Regions from separate parts of the Homo sapiens genome. Here region 2 is linked to region 1. Evidence: fine-mapped expression QTL. A gene starts in region 1. The other region holds a variant in brackets. All regions are shown on one strand. Distances are between the middles of the regions.

What was found.
Region 2: its variant is fine-mapped to the expression of DHX33 in anterior cingulate cortex (GTEx, PIP 0.96).

The regions. Positions count from the first base shown.
Region 1 is chr17:5,466,791-5,471,061 of GRCh38, reverse strand. It overlaps DHX33 (DEAH-box helicase 33), which reads left to right and starts at 2,080. Exons shown (of 12, transcript NM_020162.4): 1 at 2,080-2,491. The coding sequence starts at 2,203. DHX33-DT (DHX33 divergent transcript) reads right to left here and starts at 1,970. Exons shown (of 3, transcript NR_135644.1): 1 at 1,923-1,970; 2 at 1,068-1,148; 3 at 702-970. RefSeq lists enhancers at 1,987-2,056, 2,437-2,656, 2,446-3,028.
Region 2 is chr17:5,446,316-5,450,586 of GRCh38, reverse strand. DHX33 (DEAH-box helicase 33) reads left to right here. Exons shown (of 12, transcript NM_020162.4): 10 at 181-384; 11 at 1,692-1,778. Among named protein-coding and RNA genes, the nearest start is that of C1QBP, 9.3 kb to the right of the region's middle. The variant T/C (reference allele first, on the strand shown) is at 2,116.

The sequences.
Region 1 (4,271 bases):
CCACAGACCATCCCAGACAAGTTAAAAATGAAATGTGTCTGACACTTCGTCGTTTGAAGGAAGAACCAGGATATTCTCTGAATAGTTATTAGCTTGTCAGTATCTACATATGAAAGCTGGTGAACCCCAAGAGACTTCTTCAGGAGAAACAGCAGATTTCAGTCTACCAATGGGAGAAATGTGAGCAGCATGGCTTGATGCATATATAGGACTTAATTTTTCCACTCTTTGGTCCTCTTAGCTTTGAGGCTATAGAATAGCTGGATCATTAGGCCAGAGATTATGGATGAGTTACCTACAGATTTGTTACCTACCTATGTGCTTTGTTTTGACAGTACTTTTTTTTTTTTTAAGTTTAAACCTGTATTTAACATTGACAGATAAAAATCTTCACTTTTGGCTTTTCTTGAGAAAATTGGAAGATCTGGCAATAATAGGTCTACATGACAGCCATTGCCTAGAAATGATTAGGGGCTGCATGTAGAGGTGGAATGTGCTCCATCAAGAAATAAGTCCACCCATTTACATTACCTAAATTATTGTAATCATTTGGAACATCGGACTCCTACCTTAAGTTACTCTGGAAAGCACACTGGGAAAAAGGACTGGGATGTCTTTACTCAAAGTCCATAATTTGAGAGTTAACATTTATTATCCCTTGTAGTTTTGGGTTGCCTTTCTAAATATTTCAGGGTAGGAAGTGAAAATTTGTCAGTTTATTCTTAAACACAAATCTGCTGCTGGTTCAACGTGCACATTTTCAGTAATGCCTGGTCACCAAACTGTCAGCAACTAGAGGAAAATTATCTCCGACCTGGAGCAAAGGGGAGGTTTTTTGTTTTTAGACTAGCTCTCTCACGAATCACGGGAAGGGAGATATTTAACAGGGCGAGTTTCATGGAAACGAGCTTCAGAAGATACCCTTCACATGAGCTGAAGCTTACGGTGTATTCTCTGGAAATCACATTTCCTGTAAGAGCAAACAGCTACTTGGCATTCTCCGTGGTAAATTAGCAAATCATCTAAGAACTTTTAGGAGGGTAAGGAAGAACTAGTTATAATCCTACTTTTTTCTGCTGCAGTTCTGAATCTTCACTGAAGTGTCTGTGATGGGGTTGCACAGCCATGTAGAGAACTTGAGAGTCTGGCTGGAATGGTTGGGGGAAAGGAAAGATAAAAGACAATTTTAATTTCATTGAACTCCCTCCTTTCTCTGCTTGTATTACTGGAGGCGACCACATCCGTTGGAGGAGTCATTTTCTGAGTTAAATTCATGTATATCAGAATTGGTTTTCCTTTCTGTAACACAAGATGATCACAAAATTATGATTTGGGGACATCTGAATGACTAAGATGACTCAATTTCTTAATCTGTAAATTAGAGATAATCTAATAACCAGTATATACCACATAACTTATAAGTTGTTTAGAGGATTAGACAATGCACGTTTGCGCTTCTCATTGATTTTACAGAATTAAGTACTTTCCTTGAAGAGTGACTGTTATTTGGACAGAGAAGGGGAAAACGCGGGTTTACTGAAAAGAAGTAATGCTACTAGAACAAAACAATGGGCGGGGCGCGGTGGCTCACGCCTATAATCCCAGCACTTTGGGAGGCCGAGGCAGGCGGATCACCTGAGGTCGGGAGTTCAAGACCAGCCTGACCAACATGGAGAAACCCTGTCTCTACTAAAAATACAAAATTAGACGGGCCCCGGTGGCGCACGCCTGTAACCCCAGCTACTTGGGAGGCTGAGGCAGGAGAATCGCTTGAACCCAGGAGGCGGAGGTTGCAGTGTGAGCCGAGATCGCGCCATTGCACTCCAGCCTGGGCAACAAGAGCGAAACTCCATCTCAAAAAAAAAAAATAAAACAATGAGAAAAACCTCGTTAACCAAGACTACAGTCCCACGGAACCTTACATCCTGTGTTTCCCGGTTGTAGCTCCGGGCCTTTTCCTGGTTGTACCTCAGGCCCTGCTTTTCCCACCCCCAGGAAGTGAAAGCCTTCCCAAGCCCCCAAGGCATGCTGGGAGATGCAGTCCCTTTTTCTAAAGACTGGGGCGGCCGTGAGGTCATCGGTGGTCGCCGGGAGCCGCCAGCACGTGGCGGCGAGGAAGGGGCGGTGTGCTCCTGTTGTCTGCACCTGAGAGGGGGCAGGAGCTCTCGGCGCTTGCGCCTCCCGCCGCGGTGCCCTCCCGACATGCCGGAGGAGGCGGGCTTCCCGCCGGCCAAGAGATTCCGGCCAGGCTCTGGACCTCCGAGCCGCGCTGGGTCCTTCCCTCCCGGGAGGCAAGTGGTGATGCTGCTGACTGCGGGCAGCGGCGGCAGAGGAGGAGGAGGAGGCCGGAGGCAGCAGCCGCCCCTGGCCCAGCCCTCGGCCAGTCCCTACCCTGAAGCTGTGGAGCTGCAGCGCCGGAGTCTGCCCATCTTCCAAGCGCGGGGGCAACTGTTGGCCCAGCTCCGAAACCTGGACAACGCGGTCCTCATCGGTGAGTGGCCGCGCCGGCGGGCTCTTCCTTGCACTTCGTCCGTGGCTTAGCTAGAGCAGTTTTTCTTACATGCCTCTCAATCCCTTTCGTTCGTGGCTTCAACAAACCTGAATACCTTTTCTGGGCCAGACCTGGAGAGGGGCCTCGAAGAAGAGTCCGGCAGCCCTGCCCTGGAGGCGCTGGACAGCCCGGTGAGAGTGACCAACGTGTGTAGGCAAAGACTCACCTTCCGCGTAAAAGGGTAGAGAAACGTACCGGGGGCTTGCGGATCTTAGAAGAGTGGATCTGACCCGGTTTGTGAGGAGGCGGCTGGGGAGGTCGTGTGGGAGGGAGGGCATTCTAGGCAGGGGGGAAAGCCCGTTTGAGAGATGGGAACCTGAACACATTCCGGTCGAAAGGGAAGGTGTAGTTTCTGGTGCATGAAAAGAGGCAGAGTTGTGGGGCAGGGACTGATTTCATGGGGCTTATGATCCCCAACGTGTTAGAGGAGATACTGAAGGACGGAAAGGATGAGCAGCCAAAGAGAGGAAGGAGACCCATGAGTGCTGCTAGTCAAAGGAATAGAGAGTGAGCAGATGCAGCAGTCAAGTCCGGTTATACTGGACTTGGATGTGATGCCCACTGGATTTGGATGTGAGCTATTTGTAAGAGTTAAAGAAAAAGGAAAGAAACACGAAACGCGGCTGGCAGTTAAAGACAGCTTTTCTTTAGTTAAAACCTGAGAGGCGCTCCTGGCCGATTTCGGTCAGGAGCCCTTTCTCTTACAGACTAAGAGTATATATTGGTGTTAGGGTGAGGGGGCTTATCACAAGCTTGGAATGTTTATATGTGTGGAGAAGTTTTTGGCAGGGTTGGACTCTTTGGGAGCAGGGGATGTTATCTTGGGGCAGACATTTTTCCGGCCCGAGGGGGTTTATCTCCCGGCTGGCATATTCCCGGCTGGCATATTCCCGGCCAGAGTGGGGTTATCCCTTAACATGTCTCTGGTCGGGGAGGAGTTTGGAATGTTTCTGGCTGGAGATGTTATTTGTGGTTTATGGTCGTGCTGACCTTAGCCATTAGGCTGATACCTTTTGGATTTAGGCGGTTTTTTATTAAGGTGAACTTTTGAATGAGGGGCTTGTCCAAGATGGTGATGTTCCTGCTTTGTCAATCCAGACCCTATAGTTATAAAAAGGAGGAGGGACGGCATGTTCTTTCTGGCTACTTCCTGCAACGAGGGGATGGAGAGTTTCCTGGTCTCGGGTTGACTAGGAGCAATGCCGTCTGTAGATGTTTTTGGGTAGTTGTTTGTGAAATTGCCATGATCCTGTCAGTTAAAAATCTTTGAAAAAGATTAATTAGGCAGGGTAAGAACATTAGTTCCAGGCATATTATTAGGAGAGGGCCCAGGAATGGGATGACCCATGCTATGATTTTGTTTTCAAACCAAGAGTCCATTTGGTGGTTTTGGTACTCCCTTAGCTTTTTAGCCTTTTCTTTACGTTTTTTAGCAGCGCTTTTTACTAGGCCCGATTGGTTGATATAGAAAGAGGCGTGAGCCACCGCACCTGGCCCCCTCAAAACAATTATTTAACCTTTTAACGTAGGTAAAAATGTGCATTCTTATCCCTCCTGATAATCTTTTTACCGAAAGTGTACTTTACTTTCCTTACACACCTTGCACATAAAGTGTCTCTTCAATAGTTTTAAATACATGTTACACTGTTAACTTTTAGCAACCTTTACCTTTGTTGAAAACCTTGGTAAGTTCGGGATTTTAATTATGTGCTAGGTGTAC
Region 2 (4,271 bases), 20 kb after region 1:
CAGTCACCTGTTTTATTGAATATTAAAGAGTGAAATAACACTAATGTACATCGCCATGGTTTTAGAAATACCTGCCCTTTAACTCCTTAGAAGGGAAACTGCAAAAGCAATGTACAGAAATAGTGCATTCTAAAGCTAGGAGAAAGCTGGGTTTACACAATTTTAAATTTTGCTTTGCAGACCATCCTCATGTCCCCCAAATTCCACTGTACAGAGGAGATCCTGACCATTGTCTCCCTGCTGTCTGTGGACAGCGTCCTCCACAACCCTCCTTCCCGGCGAGAGGAAGTGCAAGGGGTCCGCAAGAAGTTCATATCCAGCGAGGGGGATCACATGACCCTGCTCAATATCTATCGGACCTTCAAAAACCTAGGCGGAAATAAGGTGAGCCTTGTCTTGCACCTGTTCTCCAGCGATAGCTGCTTGTCTCTGCTATGTGCTTCCCTTTTTCTACTGAAGCCGTGCAAAAAGTACGCTTTCCCTTTTTGGCTAAATTATCTAAAGAATCACAAAAAGAAAGCCAGACAGCATTTCAGAAATGCTTCAGTACCGAAGCAGTGTCATTCTGGTCTCTGTTCCGAATGTGTTTAAGTCAACAAGACTTAAGTGACTCCCAACCCATCAAAACTTAATTGGAACTTGATTAAGTAATATGTCTAATAATGATAGTGCGTACCAATGAATGAGTACTTACTCTGTGCCAAGCCCCATGCTAAGCACTTCTTAATGTAAGATCTCATTTATTCAGTAAAGTAATCCTAAGAAATGAGCACTATAATTATTATTTTTTATATTCATGAAACATGTAGTCATGGAAACGAAGCTTCGTGCAGTTGAAAAACTTGCCCAGGGCCAGGCACAGTGTCTCAAGCTTGTAATCCCAGCACTTTGGGAAGCCAGGGCAGGTGGATCACTTGAGCCCAGGACTTCCAGACCAGCCTGGCCAACATGGCAAAACCCCGTCTCTACTAAAAATACAAGAATTAGCCGGGCGTGGTTGTGCATACCTGTAATCCCAGCTACTCGGGAGGCTGAGGCATGAGAATCATTTGAACCTGGGAGGCAGAGGTTGCAGTGAGCCGAGATCGTGCCACTGCACTCCAGCCTAGGTGACAGAGCGAGACTCTATCTATCTCCAAAAAAAGAAAAAAGAAAGAAGTCTTACATAAATTGACTGGGCATTTCTGTTTTGTTTTCTGTGTCTGTTCATATCCTTTGTCCATTTTTCTACTGGGTCGTTGGTCTTTTTCTTAATGACTTGTAGAACTTTTAAAATCAATTCTAGAGATTCTAATCATTTATTGGGTATGATGAGACAAATATCCCAATCTGGGAAACTTCAAGTTTTTCTTTAGTTTAAATTATTAACACTTTTCTTATAGTTCATGTTTTTTGATATAAAGATATTTTCCTACGTTTCTTTTTGGCACCTGAAGTTTTTTCTCTGAATTCAACTGTGTTCTAAAAATGTTGTTATATTTTCTCTATAGAGATGAGAGGATTGTTAGCTGGGCATGGTGGCATGTGCAGATAGTTCAAGCTATCTGGGAGGCTGAGGTGGGAGGATTGGTTTGCAGTGAGCTATGATTGTATCACTGCACTCCAGCCTAGGGAACAGAGCAAGACCCCGTCTCTGTGAACATATAAATGGTGAATGAGTGGATTGTGATATCACTCTTTCTCCTATTCAGGATTGGTGCAAAGAGAATTTTGTCAACAGCAAGAATATGACGCTGGTAGCAGAAGTCAGAGCACAGCTGAGGGACATCTGCTTAAAGGTATCGTCTGGTCCTAGTGTTCTGTGGGTGACAAAGCTGTCACTTTGTTCAAGGTAGAAATTTTGAAGTTGCTTATTGCTAGTGATTATAAAAGGATTTCTCATTGTAGCAAATTTCACAAATAAGAAAAAAGGAAGTTACCCACAATTCCACAATTCAGTAGTTTAGCCTATTTCCTAATAGCCTAGTTTTTATTGTATTTTTTTACATAGTAAATTATATGTATAATTTATATTTGGTTTTATAATCTTTATAAGCATTTTCCAGTGTTAGAATTCTTCATAAGATTTTTTTTAAGTATGAATATCTGCATTATTTCCTTTTAGATTACCAAAGT[T/C]GTGTATAGTATTTGACACAATGCAGAAAATAGTGATTTATAATGTAGAAAGTTTAAAAGTCTCCCATAATCCTGCCCCTCCAGAGATAACTACTGTTAACAGTTTGGGGTAGCTCCTTCTAGAATTTGTTTCTGTGTATGTATGTTTTTGTGCATGTCTCTGTGCCTGTGTGTGAGCACACACATAACGGATACGTGCATATGAGGTACATGTTCCACAACTTCCTTTCTTCCACATGGCATATTTCTTTCTTTCTTTCTTTCTTGTTTATTATTTGAGACAGAGTCTTGCTCTGTCACCCAGGCTGGAGTGCAGTGGTACCATCTTGGCTCACCACAGCCTCCGCTCACTGCAACCTCTGCCTCCCGAGTTCAGGTGATTCTCCTGCCTCAGCCTCCCGAGTAGCTGGGATTACAGGCGTGCGTCACCACGCCTGGCTAATTTTTGTATTTTTAGTAGAGACGGGGTTTCACCACGTTGGCCAGACTGGTCTCGAACTCCTGACCTCAGGTGATTTGCCCGCCTCGGCCTCCCGAAGTGCTGGGATTCCAGGTGTGAGCCACTGTGCCTGGCCTCACATGCGTATTTCTCAAATCCTTCCTGTGGCTGGGCTTTCAGTGCTGCATGTGTCTAGCTCATTCATTTTAGTGATTTCATAGCATTTCATTGTATTCAGTGCAGTTTATTTAAGCCTCTAATAATGGTCATTTAGATTCTGTTGTAGTGACCATCCTCCGTATGTGCTGTGGTGCACACAGAATGAATTTCTAGATGGGGGAATTTGGATTTTGTTAGATATTGCCAAAGTGTCCACCGCAAAGTGTTTTTTTTCCTTTCTTTTTTTTTGAGACGGAGTTTTGCTCTTGTTGCCCAGGCTGGAGTGCAGTGGCGCGATCTTGGCTCACCACAACCTCTGCCTCCCGTGTTCAAGCAATTCTCCTGCCTCAGCCTCCCGAGTAGCTGGGACTACAGGCATGACCCACCACACCCGGCTAATATTTTGTATTTTTAGTAGAGACGAGGTTTCACCATGTTAGCCAGGATGGTTTTGGCCTCCCAAAGTGCTGGGATTACAGGCGTGAGCCACCACGCCCGGCCTAATTTTTTGTATTTTTAGTAGAGACGGGGTTTCACTATGTTGGCCAGGCTGGTCTCGAACTCCTGACCTCAGGCGATCCACTGGCCTTGGCCTCCCAAAGTGCTGGGGTTCCAGGTGTGAGCCACTGTGCCCGGCCCACAAAGTTTTATATTAGCTTTTTATTCCCTCTTAGAGTACATGGTGTTTTAAAGAGCTGTCATGGTATATTTAATGCTCGCATGACACTCCACATTTTATGTCAGAGATAGAGGGTAGCGGAAGTGTTCTTTTGCTGTTGATCACTGAGACAGTGTCCGTGTGTTTGCTGCTGTCCTGAGTACTCTGTGGTGAATGTCTTGTGCCCCCTCAGTGCGGACGCTGCTGGGAGACAGTCACAGCCTGTACCCAGGCCTGTGTCTGATGCCAACGGCCTACGGTTGGCACTAGAGCTGTTTCTTCTCATAGTAGCCTATTGTATTCTGTCTTTCACACATTTTTTTAAACTGCTTTTGTATTTGAACAGTTTCCTGCCAGTCTGTCTCTTGGCTTCATAAGTTTTCTCAATTTATCATTGACAGTAGAAACGGTGCTTCTCTATTAGTTGTGAATTTAGGACCCTGTAGTGGCCAGGGATACCTCTCATTATATGTCAGGCACTGGTAAGGTCCTGAGACTTTACAGACATGCCTACTCAGTAACTAAGTAATAATCTAGATGGTGACCTGACGTACATACACTCATGCCAGGAGGCCATCAAATTAAAATAATCACTATCATTCATGAAGTGTTTGTTCAGCACTGTTCTGAGTACTTTTTATGTGGCTGCCTTATTTAAACTCCTCATTTCTTTTTTTTTCTTTTTCAACTCAGACCTTAACCCAAAGGATAAAATCCTCATTTCAACCTATAAGATTGATTCTTTTGTTATTCCCATTTTACAAATGATGAAACTAAGCCTAATCAGGTTAAATAATTTGCCCCAAATCACTCAGCCAGTGAGTGGTAAAGCTGATAGTCTGGAAGGAGAGACCACCAGTTAGCCTCTGGGGCTTCTTGGAGGTGGTGACAACTGAGCTA